4 separate regions of the Homo sapiens genome follow, and all the other regions are reported to be linked to region 1. Evidence: microRNA targets listed by miRTarBase, many of them from high-throughput screens and not tested one by one. Region 1 holds a microRNA gene; each other region holds the end of a gene's coding sequence.

Evidence for each region. The annotated mature microRNA hsa-miR-4795-5p reads AGAAGUGGCUAAUAAUAUUGA and lies in region 1 at 3,608-3,628, shown strand. An mRNA with a match to its seed (bases 2 to 7 or 8) in the 3' UTR can be bound and repressed. Matches are read on the target gene's strand: a 7mer-m8 pairs with bases 2 to 8, a 7mer-A1 pairs with bases 2 to 7 and ends in A, and an 8mer does both.
Region 2: miRTarBase lists FOXO3 as a target of hsa-miR-4795-5p. The part of its 3' UTR that is shown has no 7-base or 8-base seed match.
Region 3: miRTarBase lists LRIG2 as a target of hsa-miR-4795-5p. Seed matches in the 3' UTR shown: 7mer-A1 at 4,222-4,228.
Region 4: miRTarBase lists NRXN3 as a target of hsa-miR-4795-5p. Seed matches in the 3' UTR shown: 7mer-m8 at 803-809.

Annotation. Positions count from the first base shown.
Region 1 is chr3:87,224,665-87,229,867 of GRCh38, reverse strand. MIR4795 (microRNA 4795) reads left to right here and starts at 3,591; the gene lies at 3,591-3,679. It overlaps CHMP2B (charged multivesicular body protein 2B), which reads right to left and starts at 2,559. Exons shown (of 6, transcript NM_014043.4): 1 at 2,312-2,559. The coding sequence starts at 2,345. RefSeq lists enhancers at 2,348-2,467, 2,538-2,607, 2,658-2,707, 2,798-2,857, 2,968-3,107.
Region 2 is chr6:108,664,070-108,669,272 of GRCh38, forward strand. FOXO3 (forkhead box O3) reads left to right here. Exons shown (of 3, transcript NM_001455.4): 2 at 1-820. The coding sequence ends at 786. Among named protein-coding and RNA genes, the nearest start is that of LINC00222, 85 kb to the right of the region's middle. RefSeq lists a silencer at 328-528.
Region 3 is chr1:113,123,334-113,128,333 of GRCh38, reverse strand. It overlaps LRIG2 (leucine rich repeats and immunoglobulin like domains 2), which reads right to left. Exons shown (of 18, transcript NM_014813.3): 18 at 1-4,459. The coding sequence ends at 4,233. It also overlaps the pseudogene RLIMP2. Among named protein-coding and RNA genes, the nearest start is that of LRIG2, 53 kb to the right of the region's middle.
Region 4 is chr14:79,861,465-79,866,667 of GRCh38, forward strand. It overlaps NRXN3 (neurexin 3), which reads left to right. Exons shown (of 21, transcript NM_001330195.2): 21 at 1-5,203. The coding sequence ends at 500. Among named protein-coding and RNA genes, the nearest start is that of NRXN3-AS3, 230 kb to the left of the region's middle.

The sequences.
Region 1 (5,203 bases):
CTTCCTTTTAAATTTACATGTGCAGTAGTCTTTAATGATACAGTATATAACTCTTCCAGCCAATCCAAACAGGAAAAAAGATTCAATTATTCCCCAGATCTATAGGCAGGTACATGTTTCCCTTATATATCAGAATTTCATTACTGCTGGAACAGATTTAAAAGTCAGCATACAATAAAAGAGCTCATGATCAATCCAACGATCTGAGAGACATAAAAATACATTAAACTTCATATTCATAATATACAGCCTCATTACCAAGAAGAATGCTGTCACCTTTTAGACAAAACAAAAAAAAACTTCCTTTCAATAAAACAGGGAATAAAAAAAGTAAAGCTCTATATCAAAATAACGAAAATACAGATCTATTTATTAAGATGTCAGTAAATGACTGGAATTGACACAATAATATAAGAAAACATCAAGTATGCATCTTGGTAGTTTATAGTAAATGTACCTGCTGGCCAAATTTACATTTGGAAATTGCACATATGGTTAATTTAGTGGCATAGTTCCTAGCAAGAGTCCTTAAGACTCTTTTACAAATAAGTCTATTCAGCAAAAACATTATTTCTTGGAAGAATTAACTGCAAATGAGTATACAGTTAAACACTCATTGCACATCCCCATTGTCTTTTTTTCTCTCCTCTACACTTCAAGTACAATAGTCACTAAATTTCCAAAAGCACCAGGAAGCACAGAACTGAGATTTATGTCTTTGAAAATATTTGACAGGTATTAGGCGATTAAAACTAGTATGCTTGGCTTTTATTGTTAAAAAAAAATTAACTCTAATTGTAACATCACAGTAAAGGAGATGAAACCATTTTTTCTCCATTTAGTAAATTCTCACTATATAAAACTAAACAACAAAAAAAAACTGTAACTATATAAAACTCAAGCAAAAAGAAAATAAATCGTTCCCCCACCCCCACTCCCTGGAGTACTGTAAAATAAGTGAAGCTCACAACAGTGGCAGCTAAAACACTGAAAAAATAAAGTGCCATATTAAAGATTAAGCAGCATTCTCATGAAAAGCACACATAAAATCCATTTCACATCACTGTATCACCTAATATACGAAGTTGGTAGTTATTCCAGGTATTGCAAATGGTACTTAATAAAAAGTCAATAAATCAAAAAAATGTTCAGTCACCCAGAGTAAGGAAAAATGTATTATGTCATCTGATAAATTAGAGGTAAAGTAGATTATGTGTTGAAATGAAGTGTACAGCAGCAGAGCAGAGATGACTTCTTTGTTATCCTCCCCAAAATAATTTTGCTGGCATTGGAATAGTCAACACAAAGGAATGAAGGAGTTACGTCCAGGTCTGGACTGAGCACCCTATTTGTACCAATCACTGTCTAGCTACCACTGCTCCTTTTGTGGCAGAATTAGACCCTTACAAAGAAGTGATTCTTTGGTTGAACCAGCAACAACCTAGACTAAACATATAATGGGGAACACAATTTTTAAATAACTTGAATGAATTTAATTCCTGGTAGCAATCAATGAAAACATCAAGTGTTATATAAACACATTATAGGCATCGCATATGAGCACCATAAAACTTGTACATTCCTTTACATTCACTTTTTTCCCCGCTTAAGATGATATTAAGCTAAATGCGGGAAACAACACAATTATCTTTACATGTTAAACTTCTATGAAGACAATATATACCCCATCTCTTTCTTTAGTTGGCAAAAAATAATCATAAGGGAGAAAAATCCATTATGAAAACTAAATCTGGGCACTTCCCTTGGGTTTATTTTTCTACTGGGGTTAATCAAAAAAGCATTTGTTTCACATCTCTTTACTGATGGGGTGTTCTTAAAGAAGCAACTGACCCAGACCCAACTTCATTTCCTAACTGGAGCCTGTTATCCCCTCCCTCCCCATTCCGAGACTGCCAGTTTCCTGTATGGATGCCTACAAGTAGTATATCGCCCAACTGAAGAGCAACAATCGAAGCAGAGGAAACCAACAAGAAATCCATCAGATTTCCAAGTTTATTGACACTCAAGGGCCAGCTAGCCTCCTCGAAACGCTCAGGATCCTGCTGAGGAAAACCCGAGGGTGGGGGAATCGTGAGGATAGGGAAGCAACCAGACTGCCTAGGTGAGCCTAAGGTGAGGTGAGTCAGAAGCAAGAGGGAGGCAGAGAAGTGGTGCCGCGAGGGCGGTCACCTGTGGGACCACTTGATCCAGCCCCGCCTCCAGGGACAGTAGGCAGAATCGCGGCCAGCAGGCCTCGAAAGACGCCGAGAAAACGCAGAGCTGGGCCCCTTCAGCCCGGCCTGGAACTCACCATCCACGGTTTTCTTCTTGAAGAGGGACGCCATGGTTAAAGACTGCGCCCGGGCGGCCCGGCTCGGCCCGGTCCGGCCCAACGCTGGCAAAGGACAGGAGGAAAAGGACAGGACCTTGGCGGGTTCGGGGTGGCGGAGCGGAGAGACAGCAGGAGGAGGTCGGGGTCGCCAGGCAGGACCCGCGGAAGGCTTGTATCCGCAGCTACCGCAGCCGCGTCACCCGGAGCTCAGGTGACCGGGAACTAACACACTTTTTGGAGAAGTCACTTCTAGGCGGCGCCTGCGCGTTGTGTGGCGCCTGCGCACTACGGAGTTTGAAGCCGCGGCCGCTTTCCTCACGTCTGCGGCTGCCAGTTCCTCCTGCACCGGGAGTTGGCAGCGGGGCGAGTCTGGAGCTGGCGGGGATAGGAGAGCGTGGGGCCACGGCTTCTGTGCGCGGGTTGGGTGATGATTGAGGACAGTGATCAGCCTTGCTTAGCGCTTCACCCCTTGCCCCGGGGAAAGCTGGATGAGGGATCTCCGGGCTCCTAGACTAAGTGTGGGTTGTCCCGGAACCGCCTGTACCCACTCCGAGTTGATTTATTACGGTCCCATTGCTGTTAGTATTTTTGTTGTTGTTGTTGTTGTTGTTTGTTTGTTTTTACTCGAGTAATCCAGGAACTGGCGGAAACGTTGAGTTCCGTACCCGGTGATTGTTGGCCCCTGGAGTTCGCGGTCCTTTCGGCACTGACTGACTCGGCGACCTCCCCCGCACCGCGCAGACCCCTGCAGGACCCTAGCCGCTCACCTGCCGCCCCCGGCTCCAGACTCCGACGACCCAGCGTGGGTCTCCGGGGATCCAGTGTCTAGAGTTGGGGGGGTCTCGAGGACGAAGGGAAGTTTTTTAATGCTACACTTTTTGTTTAAGGTTCTTGCCTGGAAACATTAAAACACACACACACACACACACACACACACACACACACAAATTTGTAGGCTGGTCTAAATGTCTCCAGCTCTATTTCTTAATTTCTTGTAAATCATGAATCATAAAGTGTCATGGCTATACGGTGATCCTATTAGAATTCCTCACAGCCGTTTATTTGGGCTTTTTGTGAAAAACTGCATATCATGTTAAAGAAAAAATGTAATGAATTATTTAAAGAATCCTTGCATGTATAAAATGGAAAATACAACCTATGCGTGCGTACCTGTATATAGTCTCTACTGTTTAAAGCAACACTGCCTTCCACAGGATAAAAATAATGGTAGCATTTTTTTTTTCATAAATATTATCTCTGATATGGAAGAAATCCAGAAGTGGCTAATAATATTGACACTATAACAATAATGTCAATATTATTAGCCACTTCTGGATTTATGAATCATGTCTCAAGGATTATTATTTATGATAATCAGGCCAGCCTTTCCCATTTTTCCCCTCCTGAGATATCCAAGCCCTCATAGCCACTGATAATGCTGCTGCTGCTGCTAAAAGTTAGCTGAGAGTCTGTTCAAGAAAACTTTCTTAAGAATGACGTAGTAATATGCAAGATATAATTGTTTTGCTTCTCCTCAAGTTATTCTCGATATGGGAAGATGAAGTAAGGAAACATTAGGAAGACATGTAAGTGAGAAGATTTAGTCTCTGCACTCAAGACCGGGCCTTTTCTGGAGTGAGCTCTATGGCAGTTTGCCCTGGCTGTCTGTTGTAATGAATGGCATAGAGCTGTGCTTGAACGCATGAGAGGCAATAAGCTGTTATGTGTGTAGTAATCGTACTCCTCCCTGCTGCAGTCACCCTTGTTTTATTACTCCTATACAATCCCCCCCACTGACCCAATTGTAACAGTTGGGAAAATGCCAAAATACTTAGGAGCAACCATATGGAAGACCCTCCAAAAGTGCACAGCAGGAGCTAAAGACAGGGCTTGTTCATTACAATAAAGACAAAATAGAAATATTTACTATTTAAACTCAGTACTCTAATAGCTTGTTCTCCCATAGTTTGAAGAAGGCTGATATTCAGCTGATTGCACCAGTCTAGCTAGAGTCCATTCTGATTAGTTGGTGGCCACATTTCTCCTGTACACATTTTGTATTATTATATCGCTCCTTATTTAAAGGGCATGATACACTTAAATATATGTTGTTTTCTGGAGTATTTCATAACATAGTTTCCTCCTCTGAAACTGAAATATTTGCCATTTTTTCATCTTTGGGTACCTCGGGTTATAATTTGAATGGGTGCATTCTTCTCCTTGTTCAGCTTTTGAAGAAAGATAGCATAACATTGGAGAGTGCTGATTCTGGACACAGACTGCCCAGTTCTGTGACCAATTCTGTGACTTTTAAGTTTTAAGACCTAGGCCAGTTCACTGAAGCTCTCCGTGTTTCTTTCATCACATATGTGATAGAGATAACATTAGCCCACCTTTCATATATTAGGTTGGTACAAAAGTAATTGGCGAAAACCACAGTTACTTTTGCACCAACCTAATAGCTGTTGCAAGGATTAAATGAGTTAATATGTTAAACATTCAAAGTAGTGCTTGGCACGTAATGTCTTAGCCCCTCTGTGCAGCTACAACAAAATACCACAGACTGGGTAATTTATAAACAGTAGAAATTTATTTCTCACATTTGTGGAGGCTGGGGAGTCCAAGATCAAGGAACCCAGAGGTTTTGTTTCTGGTGAGAGCTGCTTTCTGCTTCCATGATGGTACCTTGCTGTTGCATCCTCAAGAAGAAAGAGATGCTGTATCCTCACATGGCAAGAAGGACAGAAGGGTAAAAGGGCGGTAGGCAGCTCCCTCACACCTGTTTTATAAAGGAACTAATCTCATTCATGAGGGCTCCACCCTCATGACTTAATCACATCCTAAAGTTCCCACCTCTAAAAACTATCACAT
Region 2 (5,203 bases), not on the chromosome of region 1:
AGCTTCCCGTATACCACCAAGGGCTCGGGCCTGGGCTCCCCAACCAGCTCCTTTAACAGCACGGTGTTCGGACCTTCATCTCTGAACTCCCTACGCCAGTCTCCCATGCAGACCATCCAAGAGAACAAGCCAGCTACCTTCTCTTCCATGTCACACTATGGTAACCAGACACTCCAGGACCTGCTCACTTCGGACTCACTTAGCCACAGCGATGTCATGATGACACAGTCGGACCCCTTGATGTCTCAGGCCAGCACCGCTGTGTCTGCCCAGAATTCCCGCCGGAACGTGATGCTTCGCAATGATCCGATGATGTCCTTTGCTGCCCAGCCTAACCAGGGAAGTTTGGTCAATCAGAACTTGCTCCACCACCAGCACCAAACCCAGGGCGCTCTTGGTGGCAGCCGTGCCTTGTCGAATTCTGTCAGCAACATGGGCTTGAGTGAGTCCAGCAGCCTTGGGTCAGCCAAACACCAGCAGCAGTCTCCTGTCAGCCAGTCTATGCAAACCCTCTCGGACTCTCTCTCAGGCTCCTCCTTGTACTCAACTAGTGCAAACCTGCCCGTCATGGGCCATGAGAAGTTCCCCAGCGACTTGGACCTGGACATGTTCAATGGGAGCTTGGAATGTGACATGGAGTCCATTATCCGTAGTGAACTCATGGATGCTGATGGGTTGGATTTTAACTTTGATTCCCTCATCTCCACACAGAATGTTGTTGGTTTGAACGTGGGGAACTTCACTGGTGCTAAGCAGGCCTCATCTCAGAGCTGGGTGCCAGGCTGAAGGATCACTGAGGAAGGGGAAGTGGGCAAAGCAGGTCAGTGCCGAATGCTATGGCATAAAAATAACAATATGGGGATGAGGGGGGATCTCTGGGGGAGCCTGTCTTCTCTTTACTTTGAACTTTATTCCACACTGAAAACCATGGAGCAGTGGTGCACATAATATGGCTCCCAGCCAGTTCCATCTCAGGGTTTTACCTGCAAACCAAATAGGGCTGTCAGGTGCCCCCCTTCCCCCGCACAGTTTGCTGATAGTTCAGAAATCTACTGCTCGTGAAGAGAACACGTACGCATTCAGAGATCGCATTCTTTTTTTGCATCCAGTTGTCCTCACTGGCCTGTGACGCAGGTTGCCCTACTTGATGGATGGATGAGAAGAGAAGGAGAGGGATGGGAAGCTTGGGTCGTACTTCAGGGTTAAGGATCCCAGCCAAAGGGCTTTCCTAGAAAGACTCTCTGGTCCGTCACCGCTTTTGTCAATCTTCAGTGTTACATGTTCTTCATCTTTTTTTCCTTGTAAAGTAATGATCGGCAGGTACTTCTAATTTGCCTGCAGAATATGTATTCTAGACTCTTTCATATATGAATATTTCTAACAGAAGCAAAATCTGTTAATTATTCTTTATCTTAGTACTAAGCATCTTTATTAGCTAGCACTCAAGAGCTAAACCTTTAAAAAAGTAAGAGGCCAGGCACAGTGTCTCACGCCTATAATCCCACAACTATGGGAGACTGAAGCAGGAATTGCTTGAGGCTAGGAGTCAGAGACCAGCATGGGCAACATAGCAAGACTCTGTCTCTACAGAAAACTTAAAAAATTAGCTGGGTGTGGTGACACATACCTGTAGCCCCTGCTTCTCAGGAGAATCCCTTGTGCCCAGGAGTTTGAGGCTGCAGTGAGTCATGATCGTGCCACTGCACTCCATCCTGGGTGGTAAAGCAAGAACCTATCTCTTAGAAAAAAAAAAAAAAAAAGCCAAAAAATTAATTTGAAAACACAGGTGTTTGTATGAGGGAGTACTTACTCGTGTGCTTCTGCTTGTTCACCAAACTATAAATGATATCAGCAGTTTCCAAACATAGAGTGACACAGGTTGTGAATGGTGATGGAGATTTTTTCAATTGTGGCATTTTAATGTTCTCAGAACCACAAAGATCAGGCAGTGTGATGTAAGAAAAAGCATTTGATTGAAATCAGGAATTGAGGTTCAGGCCCACTTCTACCACTTTCTTGCTACCACTATGGTTGTGTCTTAGGTCTCTGAGTCTCAACTTCCAGTTTTATAAAATGAGGATAATAGCCCCCATTACTTCACAGGGTTATTACAAGAATCAAATGCACTAAAGCATGTGAAACTGCAGTAGGCTGAAATATGTACCATGCAACTAGGTATACTGACAAATGGGCAAGCAGGTAGCCCAGAGAGGTTAAGTAGTTTGCCCAAGGTTACAGAGCTAGGTTGATTTCTTTTTTTTTCTTTTTCTTTTTCTTTTTTTTTGAGATGGAGTCTTGCTCTGTCTCCCAGGCTGGAGTACAGTGGCGCGATCTCGGCTCACTGCAAGCTCCACCTTCCAGGTTCACGCCATTCTCCTGCCTCAGCCTCCTGAGTAGCTGGGACTACAGGCGCCCGCCACCACGCCTGGCTAATTTTTTTTTTTTTTTAATTTTTAGTAGAGATGGGGTTTCACTGTGTTCACCAGGATGGTCTCGATCTCCTGACCTTGTGATCCGCCCGCCTCAGCCTCCCAAAGTGCTGGGATTACAGGCGTGAGCCACCGTGCCCGGCCTAGATTCATTTCTTAAATGGCTTGAACCCCCATAGTAGTTCTTCCTTATTCTCTCTAGCTGGTTAGAAAAAAAGCGGGGAGGGGAGGGAAGTGCCCTGAACTGGAGTCAAAGTAGCAGATGATAGACAAGCTTTCCCTAAAAACTCTCCTCCTCAAGAAGTAAGATGAACACTGGGATCTTCTACCAACAGGTTTGCACCCCTAGCCACCTCGATGTTAACAGGTTCTGTTCCGTGCCCCAGCCCTTTTGCTTTGTTTTGTTTTAGTCTCAGCAAGCTACTTACAGGCTTCTTTAAGTGGTGTAAAAAGCAAGGGAATTCAAAGCTGTAAAAACTTGAGCCTTGTTTAACCCTCTGCCATGATGAAGGACTTAACAAGGGTCTCCTATGGTGAGCTCACTCCAGCTCACGGGTGGTTGCAGAAAGGGGAATGTTAAGAGTGTTGTGATGCTAAAGCCTCTCAACTTTCTCAGGCCTAAGAGACCCCTAATGGAACTCAGATATCTGATTTCAGTCATTTAATAGCCCTTGAGATGGTGAAAAGACTGTAATGGAAGCTAAGTAGGGTGGTAGTACTTCCATGCCAGCCAGCTCAGTTCCATACCAGAACTTGGGCTAGTGGAGATTTGACTTCAGAAATGTAGATATTTGGCCTTTAGAAGACTAGTTTGTCTTCCTTTAAGGAGAAGAATATGGAAGATTTGTCTTTAGAAATGTAGATGTTTGGCTTTTAAAAGAATAAATGGTTTGTCTTCCTTTAAAAATAGGCTTTTAAAGACACAAGTAAGTTTTAATTTGAGTGTAATTGTAAGGAGGCCACTTTCTAGTTCGTTGGAAAATATGTGTTCAGAAGACAATGTAGTATCAGTTTTTGTCTGATTTTTCAAGTGTTGGTTTCCCTTTTGGTTGAACAGCAGATCTTTCTCGTATATGTGTAATTCTAAAGGATTGTACAGAAAATTAAGGGAGATCTAAATACTTAGATTTTTAAAGTTTATCTGGTGAACTCTGATTTTGGTGATGATAATAAATGACTGCATTGAGGATAATGCATTTCATTGTTATATCCTAATGAAGCTTTAGGGTCATCTTCGCCTCAGAATATTTTGGGGGAGGTTGTTTTGAGAAGATAACTTCTTCAGCTAAAAATGAAAAGTCACCAAATTTTCCTGAAAGTAGACTAGCTCAGTATGACCACAGAGCATTTAAAGAACCATCCAAAGGACAGTGGGGGCTGTGAGGGGATCTAGTTTCTGGTTTAGGATTTCCATTTTTGCTTAGAATCCATTGTTCTTTCAGCAGCCAGGAGCACATGCAACCTGAAGTGTATTTTTTACTTTAAAACTTAACTGTGACTGTCACTTCATTGAAGACTCTCCTAAATTCACAGAACGAGGCTGAGGTCAGACTCTGACACCCTGCTTCTCTCAAATTAACTGTCCCAGCTTCCCAAGAGTTGCTCTCTAATAACTTTCTTGGTTTAACTTCTTAGTGTTTCTCCAGACTGAATTCCTGGCTTGCTCACAGAAGAAGGTCATGTGATGCTGAATCTGAGCCGCCTTGTGTTAATGGAGCGGTCTGCTCAGTTGACAGGCAGTCTTGCTGGGGAGCTGCAGCAAGATGCTTCTCTGGCGGGCTGGGTGTTTCACACGTCATTCATTTTAGACCACGTGTAGAATTCTTTGACCCTTAGGTCTATCTGGAAAAGAAAAAATAGCCATACTTTTTTGGAGGGCTGGCTGCTGGGTCGTGAAGGGCACTGTGTTCTCTCAGGTGTTCATAAAGCTTGGTGCATGTGCTTACAGTTGGTGGCAGAGATGGTCATGAGCTGGTGTGGTGCTGCAAGCTCGAGCTTCCGGTAAGCCTTCTTGAGTTCGACATGTGTCCTCTCTGAGGGAAACCAGCTTCAGTCTCACCTTAATTTGATATCAAAGATGCCTGCATTCACAAACTTTCATTCATCTTCATCTTTTGACATTTGGAGACACCATTAGGGAGCAGCCCAATATTTAGTTTAAAGTACTTTACATAAAGACTGGGAAGCATCCACCAGCAAAAGCCCAGATGGAGAGGGGAGGGGTGGTTCACTTCTTGTCTCTGCCACATCACTCAATCTTGTAGAATATTAGGTTTCTCATTTGTCAAAAGAAGACAGCCTCATCAAGTTTTAAAGGTGCATAGTATGTATAATTTTAAACTTGAAGACCGGGCGCAGTGGCTCACGCTTGTAATCCCAGCACTTTGGGAGGCCGAGACGGGTGGATCATGAGGTCAGGAGATCGAGACGGTGAAACCCCGTCTCTACTAAAAATACAAAAAAATTAGCCGGGCGTGGTGGCGGGCGCCTGTAGTCCCAGCTACTCGGAGAGGCTGAGGCAGGAGAATGGCGTGAACCCAGGAGGCGGAGCTTGCAGTGAGCTGAGACTGCGCCACTGCACTGCAGCCTGGGTGACAGAGCAAGACTCCGTCTCAAAAAATAAAAAAAATAAAAACTAAATAAACTTGAACCCTAACATTTTGTCTGTGAAATGGACCTGGTGAAGTCTATGTTATGATACAGAGCTAGAAAGAAATAGTGGTGTACTAGTGTGGCATCAGCAGGCTGCAGTATTGGAAGCCATTTGGAATTTA
Region 3 (5,000 bases), not on the chromosome of region 1:
ATAATCTAGTAAGAAAGGAAGAAGAGGGATCGCAGATTGAAGGGATAGGAAATTGTGATCTTTAGGAAGTTCAAAGTGAAAATGATCAGAGGCTGACATAGTAAAGACATAAAAAGGTGTGGCAGTACTAAACAGCTCAAGAAGTGCTGCTGCCCATGGGAGAACACTTAGGATTGAAAATAAGTATGAATAAATGCTCAACTTTCTGGCAAAAAGTTGAGAAATTATGTGAGTTTGGAACCCTTGAACCAGGACTTAAAAATAGATATTTTTATTTAAGTGGCTGAAATTATCTAGTGAGTAATATTGGATTTAGAAGAGAGAACTGGACAGGAAGTGTAAGGAAATCTGAAAGCACAAAGAAAGAATTACATTGCATTAGAGTGTGAAGTTATTTACCTAAAGCTCTTTGGTATCAGAAATTCAAGAAAATTTTTGGCTTAATCACTTGTATAAAATAAGGACCGGCCGGGCTCGGTGGCTCACGCCTGTAATCCCAGCACTCTAGGAGGCCGAGGCGGGTGGATCACCTGAGGTCAGGAGTTCGAGGCCAGCCTGACCAACATGGAGAAACCCCGTCTCTACTAAAAATACAAATAAAATTAGCCGGGCATGGTGGTGCATGCCTGTAATCCCAGGTACTTGGGAGGCTGAGGCAGAAGAAGGGCTTGAACTCGGGAGGCAGAGGTTGCAGTGAGCCGAGATTGTGCCACTGCACTCCAGTCTGGGTGACAGAGCGAGACTCCGTCTCAAAAAAAAAAAAATAAGGACCACTACAAGGCTTTACAGTATAAGAATTTTGGGGCCAGGCAAGTGGCTCATGCCTGTAATCCCAGCACTTTGGGAGGCCAAGGCAAGCAGATCACCTGAGGTCAGGAGTTCAAGACCAGCCTGGCCAACATGGTGAAACCCCATCTCTACTAAAAATATCAAAAAAAAAAAAAAAAAAAAAGCTGGAAATGGTGGTGTGCCTGTAATCCCAGCTACTTGGGAGGCTGAGGCAAGAGAATTGCTTGAACCTGGGAGGCGGAGGTTGCAGTAAGCCAAGATCATGCCACTGCGCTCCAGCCTGGGTGACCGAGAGGGACTCCATCTCAAATAATAATAAAGAAAAAAGAATGTTTGCATGTTCTTCTACTCCCAAGAGCACTCTTCCCTTCTTAAGATATACTGCACATTGGTAAAAGATTAAAAACAAAACAAACTTGGAAAAGAAGCAATCTTTGGTTTCCTGGTCAATGAAGAACTTTGCTGAAAGAAGATATTCCCATTCAGAGAAAGCACAAAGTGAACACAACTAGAAACAACTGAAACTCAGTCTGGTATTTCAATACTGTGTCATAACAGCCAGACAACTTTCCAGCTGTTCTTCAAGACAGAAAACTCAGATTCTGACAATGAAGAAGATGGATGTGGCCCAGTGCAGAAGTCGGATGGACAAATGGTTCCAGAAGCTTTCTACTTGCAAATAACCTGAGTGATGAAGATTACAGGCTTATGAGTGATAACAATTTGCTAGGCACTATAGGTGAAGTACAGAAGAGTTGCTGAGAAGGTTACAACAAATTAAAGAGGATTCCCCACAAGAATCAGGTGAAAACAGAGGTGGATGACGTCTAGCACTAGTAATGGGTCTGTAATAAAGTGGCTTACCTCTTTTGGGCAAACTGAAAATATGACAGGAAGTAAGCAAAGAGAAAACCAAGCTTGGACAGCAGTGAGCCAGAGTAATCCATATAGTGGTAATTTCAGATTCAATGTAGGGATCAATTTTATCCTTAATAATGGAAGGCTGAATACAGAAAATGAATATGCATCATCTGCAAGATTTCCCAGGGGAGAAAATAGGGAAAACAGAGGAAAGTGGAAAATCCACAATCTGAGTCAACATTTGCAAGGCCACCTAGGTCAGGTACAAAGTGCGACAGAAGTATTAATGAAAGTTCCACTTACCAGAGGTCAGAGAAGACTGAGAAGCAGGAGCCCAGACCAATGGAGAACCAGAGCGAGAAATAAAAGTAGGTTCCCTCCAAATTCATGGTGAGAAATTTCACAAATATTTCATGATAATATACATCTCAGACTTTTGAATGACCCCTGGTAAATGAGACAGAGATTTTCTAGAACTCAGCAACATGAGACATTGAGAGAGCAAATAACTGACCCATAGTTGCAAAGTGGCATGTTTTTGTAGCTTTTGGAACATGGAATGCCTTTCCAGGAAAACGTTCTCCAGACACAATCAGAAATGGTGAATCTGGGGCACTGAGACTGAGAAATCCAGTCATAGTCCTGATTGTGATAGTAGGAAGAGTTCATCATGGGGAATATTTGCCAAGATATAGCACACCTAATAGAACCCAGTTAACATCTCCAACACCAAACAACAGTCACTTTAGAAAGTGAACAAAGAGAACTCAGAAATAATATTTTCACATTCTGAGCAAGCAGGTGTGAGCACCTATTTCACTACCAAAAGAATTCCTGTTCACAGAATTTCAAATACTCATTTAAATAATACACCTGTTGCAACTCAAAGAGCATTAAAGCAGACAATGACAAGATTTGCAGACTCAAATATGGACAGTGATAGTGATTTGTATCCTAGCGGCTCACCCCAGTCAGAACATGGCAAGAGCAAAGTCACAGAATGAAAGAGATGGTTCTGATATCAGCAACTGTTCTGGCTCCAATTCATGTCACAGTACTGCTTATGAGTCTGACTCAAGTTCTGCAATCTTTAAATCAGCCTCCAGTTTTTGAAGCGTTCATTATACATAAAGTAACAACCCGATCTAACTCATTGGTTCCTGAAGGAATGACTGAACCTTCCTCAATCAATTTCTGTTTCAGTAAAAAAAAAGAGGGAAGGAGGGAGAGGGGGAGGAAATGAAAGGAATTTCCAAACAAGTTTTCCTCTAGGTGCATACAGCTGTGACAGGACTGCCAGGCTCTGAAAGAACAAGCTTTTTATGTTAGAAAGGGAGTATCACCTAGCACTTTTAAACAGATGGCAAATGACCAGAAGTATGAACCTCTAGGCATGAAGAAGGCGGTTAATTACACCAAGACTGTGTTTATGTGTATACAATCACTAAGTAGCTGCCTCTATAGATACACTTCTTAACAAGTAAGTTTTTAAAACTTTTTATTTATTTATTTTACTTTTGAGCCAGGGCCTCACTCTGTCACCCAGGCTGGGATGCAGTGGCTTCACACAGCTCACTGCAGCCTTGATTTCCCGGGCTCAAGTGACCCTCCCACCTCAGCCTCCCAAGTAGCTAGGACTACAGCAGCATGCCACAATGTCCACCTATTTTTTTAATTTATTTTTTTGCAGACACAGGGTCTCACCATGTTGCCCAGCCTGGTCTCAAATTCCTGGCCTCAAGCAATCCTCCCACCTTAGCCTCTCAAAATGCTGGGATTACAGGTGTGAGCCACAGTTTTTATACTTTAAATAAAATTTTTAGATCTCACTAAATTGAGTTATTTAAAATCTGTGATCTGAGAAGCTACTTGTCAATATTATAACTGGATATTACATATAATTTTGGCATATCAAAAATATTTACATTGCAGCCAACACATATGGTCAATGAATACAAAAATTATTTATAAATGCACATATATTTACAATGACATCCCTGGGCAATAGGGACAAAAAAAAAAATTCACAAGAATACAAAAATCTTTGACCTGGTACCAGTTGGTCAAGCCTGGGATTCTTGCCAAAGACCTTGAATATCAAAGCCCCAGTCTCAACTATCTGCCTGAAACCACTGAAGAATCCCAGGCACACTTCCCAGAAGGCTCCAAAGTTATTTTTGCTCCTTGGAAAGCAAAGTAGAACATCGAAGTAGTGATGTTTTCTCAGGACCATTCTGAAGACTAGGGCAATCCAGCATGTTAAGCAGCAATGTGACTCTTCCTGACAAGCAGATGCACACCAGGGCACATCCCCATGGAAGCATCAGGAAGCACATTTGCCCCGTATCTTCCCTCTGCCGGTGCTGCACATTTTTGATGAGCTGTACCCATTTCTGTCAGCTGTTGCCATTTCTTCATCAGGTATAAGACCAAACAACGCATGGCCCACCTTGGTGCGGTCAGATGCAATCATAAAGAAAGAGTAAAGCAAATGCTGACTTCGGAGTTTCTTCTGAGCTCTGAGGTAGTAAATGCAAAATTAATTAATAAGTCTCTGCCCAGATTTCATCCTGAAGTGAGTTTCATGTGCCCTCACTACCATCTTGAATGTTCCGAGTCCTACTAAAATCAAAAGCATGATCCTGTAACCTGTGGCAGGACATGGAAGAAGCAGAACAGTCTGGCTCTCTCCCTGCCAGGCCCTCATTTTGATGAAGTTGTGGTGACTCATGGACTGGCTGCTGGGAAAAAGGAGGATGAGGCAGGCCTAGTTCTCTGTTTATGTTCCACACGGGCCGCTGCAATGTTTCTGAGAATGAAAGACAAGAATTATCAGTAGTGACTGGTAAAACTTAATATCCTTTTAGCCAAATCCTCAAAGAAATAAAGATGTTCAATATTCCTGAATAGGGACACTGAAATCACACACACACACACACACACACACACACACACAAAAACCACCACCAGAACATGGTCTTTCAAATCCCTCTACTTCACAAACCTAACCAATTATTTACTGAGATCATACTATATATCGTCTACTGTCACCTGTTATTTTAGCGATTCTGTTGCTACAAAATTTTTTATTTTATTTATTTATTTTTTTGAGATGGAGTTTCGCTCTTGTTGCCCGGGCTGGAGTGCAATGGCGTCATCTCGGCTCACCGCAACCTCCGCCTCCCGGGTTCACACAATTCTACTGCGTCAGCCTCCCAAGTAGCTGGGATTACAGGCATGTGCCACCATGCCCAGCTAATTTTGTATATTTAGTAGAGACAGGAGTTTCACCATGTTGGCCAGGCTAGTTTGAACTCCCAACCTCAGGTGATCCGCCTGCTTCAGCCTCC
Region 4 (5,203 bases), not on the chromosome of region 1:
CCCCTGAGCTGATCCGCTTCACAGCTTCCTCCTCGTCTGGGATGGTGCCCAAATTGCCAGCTGGCAAAATGAATAACCGTGATCTCAAACCCCAGCCTGATATAGTCTTGCTTCCGTTGCCCACTGCCTATGAGCTAGACAGCACCAAACTGAAGAGCCCACTAATTACTTCCCCCATGTTCCGTAATGTGCCCACAGCAAACCCCACGGAGCCGGGAATCAGACGGGTTCCGGGGGCCTCAGAGGTGATCCGGGAGTCGAGCAGCACAACAGGGATGGTCGTCGGCATTGTGGCTGCTGCCGCCCTCTGCATCTTGATCCTCCTGTACGCCATGTACAAGTACAGGAACAGGGACGAGGGGTCCTATCAAGTGGACGAGACGCGGAACTACATCAGCAACTCCGCCCAGAGCAACGGCACGCTCATGAAGGAGAAGCAGCAGAGCTCGAAGAGCGGCCACAAGAAACAGAAAAACAAGGACAGGGAGTATTACGTGTAAACATGCGAACACTGCTCACACGCGAGTTTTCACAGTTATTTCTATCCACGCCTATGAATCTTTGGACGGTGAGATCTCACAGATGTCAGAACTGCTGGAACTATGAAATGGGGTATATAACCACGACTCTGGTGGGGAAAACCGTTTTTTAAAGGACACACACACACACAGCGATGCATCTCTCTCTAAAGCTCAGCCACGGCTGCGGCAAGGTCCCAGCGGTCGCTGGGAGACAGAAGGTTTTGTGCCCTGCTGTATCATAAAGCACACACTTAGCGCTCTGGAGCCGGACGGTGGCTCCACCACTTCCGCAGGCCTGGAAACTTCCTTCTCCGGAGGACCTTTTACTAAAAGGTAGAAGACTTCATGGCTTACTTGTTCCATAACTCCAAGTGAGTCTGTAATGTTTGTGAAGCTTGACTGTAACCATGTTTTTTCTGTTTAATTATGTAAAAAACAAAACTACAACAACAAAAAAAGAAAAAAGTTAAAAAAGAAAAAAACACCAAAAAACAAAAACAAACAAAAAAAAAAACCCACAACCCTTATCTGGTTCTGACCAGTGTGCGTGTAACTTTATGATCTGAGGGGAAAAATGGCTTTTGGGTTTTTGTTTATTTTTTTGATAATGACTGGACATCAGAAGAGGAAAAAAACTCAAAACAAAAGCGAGAGAGACTATTGCCATATGAACTCAAAAGCTATCATGGTGTTCACTCTACATATCAGGTTATGGTGTCTCTAGAATCTGTTGTTTGTTTCCTATAAGATGCTTTGCTGAACACATAGCAAAATTCATGTGACGGATGATAAATTGATTCGAAAAGCTGGTCCCCCAGGATCTAATTTCAGAATTTACCACCCAAACCCGGAACAGATGGGTTTAGGGCTGGTGTTATCAGAGCTATTGGCTTTACGTAACAATATTGTTCCTGTCCATTCACCCAGCCAAATTGTGTTAAAGAGGAAAGCCCCACAAACTAAAACAGCCTTTCCTAGGGAAGAGGAAGGGGAGGTGGGCTGGATCTGTGACTGATTGAAATGCATGCAAATAAAAAAGACAATATTAAAGTCTGTTATCAAACCAGACAGTAGGGGAGTTCAACTCGTGATGGAACCACAAAAGGTCACACAAGCCAACCATGTCATGCCAGAGTACAAAACACATAGTTCTTTCCCCGCCCCGAATGTGACAATGGTTTTCATAGTGGTTTAATTTTGTAGCCTGACATTTATGGATAACTCTGTCCTTCCATTTGCTCACTTCTCTCTTCACCCATCTTTTTTAAAAACAAATAAATGAATAAAGCTGCTGTGACACACACACAAAAGGAATTTAATAGTATAATATATATATAAATAAATATATATACAGATATATTTATCATGGTATGTTTGATGGGATGACTGACACAGGAAATCTGTTAAAGTCTTAAAATGGAATGAGAATGTTGTTTTAAAAGAAAATAGCAAAACAACAAAAAAGCAAACCTTAAAATGTGAAGAAAGTGTGAATTTTAGTTTTGTCACAGTTAACTGTGTCAAAGAGAATTAAAAAAAAAAACTTCAGATTTTGTTTACATATTTTACTACATTTTTGCTGGTATAATTCCTTAGCCACCTATGTACATACTGCTTTAAGAAATGTTTTTTTCCTGTTTATTTCTGTTTGGTTTATATTCTGGTTGTCTTTTTCTTTTTGTAAAGAGGAAACAATGTACAGAAAAACAATAAACTGGTTGTATGGCCATAGCTATCCGAAAAGCAAGAGACAAAGCAAGACAAATATTCACACAAAAATGAAGTGTGTCCTCTGGAGGGTCAGATATACAATTTCTTTTGTACAGATGAAAATCAATCAGCTGCTTAGATTTAGAAATCTACTCTTGCTGGTCTTTGTAAGTTGCATGAATATTTGACTTTGAAAAAATATCTTAACGACATGGGGCAAAAAGTGCAATCTAAATGGTAGCCTTTACTAATGTGTGTGGAAAGAGGTGTTCCTCATTATCTAATATTTCAATGTGTTAAGAGTTTAATTTTTTTGTTATCATTAAAAAAGACAGGATTATAAAGAGATATCAAAGCACGATTTTAGATAACCTAAACGGCCCAGCCTATACGAAGTTGATTATATCTCGATGTCTGTAAAAGATTGCTGTTCTTGGAGTCTTGAGGTCTTGTGAATTGATTTCCTGCTTTCTTTCATTTTTTTCAATTTAAGTAATAATACATTTGTTATATTCCTTTCAGTGTAAGTTTCTATTTGGACAATTTTATGGGAACATGTGCATTCTCTATGTGAGCTTCTATCATATTCCTGTTTTATTAGCAGAACCTAAAGGAATTTATTTAATGATGTTGTGACATTACTGCTTTTTCTTTTTTCTTTTCTTAGTTCATATTTGCATTTTCGTTCAAGGATATGCTTAGCAATAAAATGTTCTTCCCAAAACCTTGTATGCTGATGCACTTTTATTTTCTTAACATTTGAGAAAATCTCGCACTGAAGCTAATTATGTCATATCTTATTAAAAGCCGAGTAAGAGCTAGACCACTTTCATGTGATAGAAGATATTCTAAGCAGTTACTAATTATTACATTATCAAAATGCCATATTTATGAGATAATTATCTGTTACTTGAGGCATTATTTTTTAGATTGCTATGATAGAATAACCAGGAGGGAGTGCATTTTTCTGGAAAGATGATAGAAACATTGTATTCTAGAAAAGATTATTGGATACTATGGTTTTGTTTGTTTGTTTTTGTTTTTTGTTTTTCGTTTTTTGTTTGTTTTTTTTTTGAGACAGAGTCTCGCTCTGTCGCCCGGGCTGGAGTGCAGTGGCACGATCTCGGCTCACTGCAAGCTCCGCCTCCCGGGTTCACACCATTCTCCTGCCTCAGCCCCCCGAGTAGGTGGGACTACAGGTGCCCGCCACCACGCCCGGCTAATTTTTTGTATTTTTCGTAGAGACGGGGTTTCACCGTGTTAGCCGGGATGGTCTCGATCTCCTGACCTCGTAATCCACCCGCCTCGGCCTCCCAAAGTGCTGGGATTACAGGCGTGAGCCACCGCGCCCGGCTTGGATACTATGTTTTTTAAAGGCATTTCGTACCTTTTACGTATTTTCTATAAGTCAACAAGCTTTAAACAGTATTTAAAACTATGTTCACATAGTGCCATAAGCACTAGAAAGTCTTAGATGTCTTCTTTCCAAGCCTCCCACCATATTAAAATTTAAAATTAAAAAACAGAATCCAAAACCAAAATTTAAATGAGTTCTTCAATTTTAACAGCTTCTTACAAGAATTTCTGATTACAACTTGTTTCATACACCCATTGTAGCAGTAATGTCTCATATTTCTCGTTCTCTCAGCACACACTTACTTGGCCAATTGGATAATCCATCTACCCTTTGTTCTTCACTGTAATCTAGAAATATAGATTTAACTGAACAGCTGTCCTTTATCCATATGTTGGTTACCAGTTTTCAAAGAGTTAGAATTTTAAAAATATATATTTAGTTAAGCCTGTGCCTTCAAGATAACATTAGTGGAGTGGTTATACTATCGACTATGTTAGGAATGGGGGGGAGAAAGTCAGGTTCAGTGATGTCAAATTATGTAAAGTTTTTTTTTTGTTCCTGTCTTCAAAGTTCTGTATTAGATGTTCTCCCATCATTTTTTGAGATGGAGTCTTGCAGCCTACAGTGCAGTGGCATGATATTGGCTCACTGCAACCTCTGCCTCTCAACCTCAAACGATTCTCCTGCCTCAGCCTCCTGAGTAGCTGCGACTACAGGCATGGGCCACCACACCCAGCTCATTTTTTAATTTATTTTTTATTTTTTTAGTAAGGAAGGGTTTCACCATGTTGGCAAGGCTGGTCTCGAACTCCTTACTTCAAGTGATCCACCCACCTTGGCCTTGCAAAATGCTGGGATTATAGGTGTGAGCCACTCCTCCTGAAATCTTTCTAAATCTCACTAATATATAATTCTAGGACTACTTTAAGCATTCACTTTTTCTTTAATTCAAGAAACATTTATTGAACACTTATGTACAAGCTAGTCTACTATTGGCTATTGTTACTTTGTTTCAATGAAGGCAGAAAATGGCTAGAAGGATTTTAAGCCTTTTTGTCTCTTGTATAAATCTATACAGGTCCAGTCTCTCTTTGCTCATATTCAAATTGAAGTTTGATCTTTCTCCAAAAAATATCCAAGCCCTGTGTTTGTCCCAGTTGAACTAATATCTTGATTATATAGTTTAAGATCAGTTTGATAATGTCTATTGAATATTTACTAAATGATTATGGGATATTAAATTGAGAGCCTTGGGAGCTTATCATCTAGTAAAGATGAACAAAAAATGGTACTATAGTGAATGCAAATAAGCTATCAAAAAGTACAAACTAAGTTGGGAGCTTAGAAGAAATTATGTAAGGGAAGGCTTCATAGAAGGGGTGACATTTTGGTAAACCTTGGAAAACTGATAGGCAGAAATAAGGGCTGTATATCATTCTAAGCAAACCCTTAAAGTGGGAGCAAGCAGGATCAAAACCATAATTTGGATTGATGACAGACTGCAAAAAGTACATTGGAGGAAGATATGAGTAGGAAGGTTTTTGAAATCATGTCAATGAATGGGAAGAGAGAAATGGGAGAATAGCTTGAGAAGTTCAAGGTCAAGGGCTGCTTT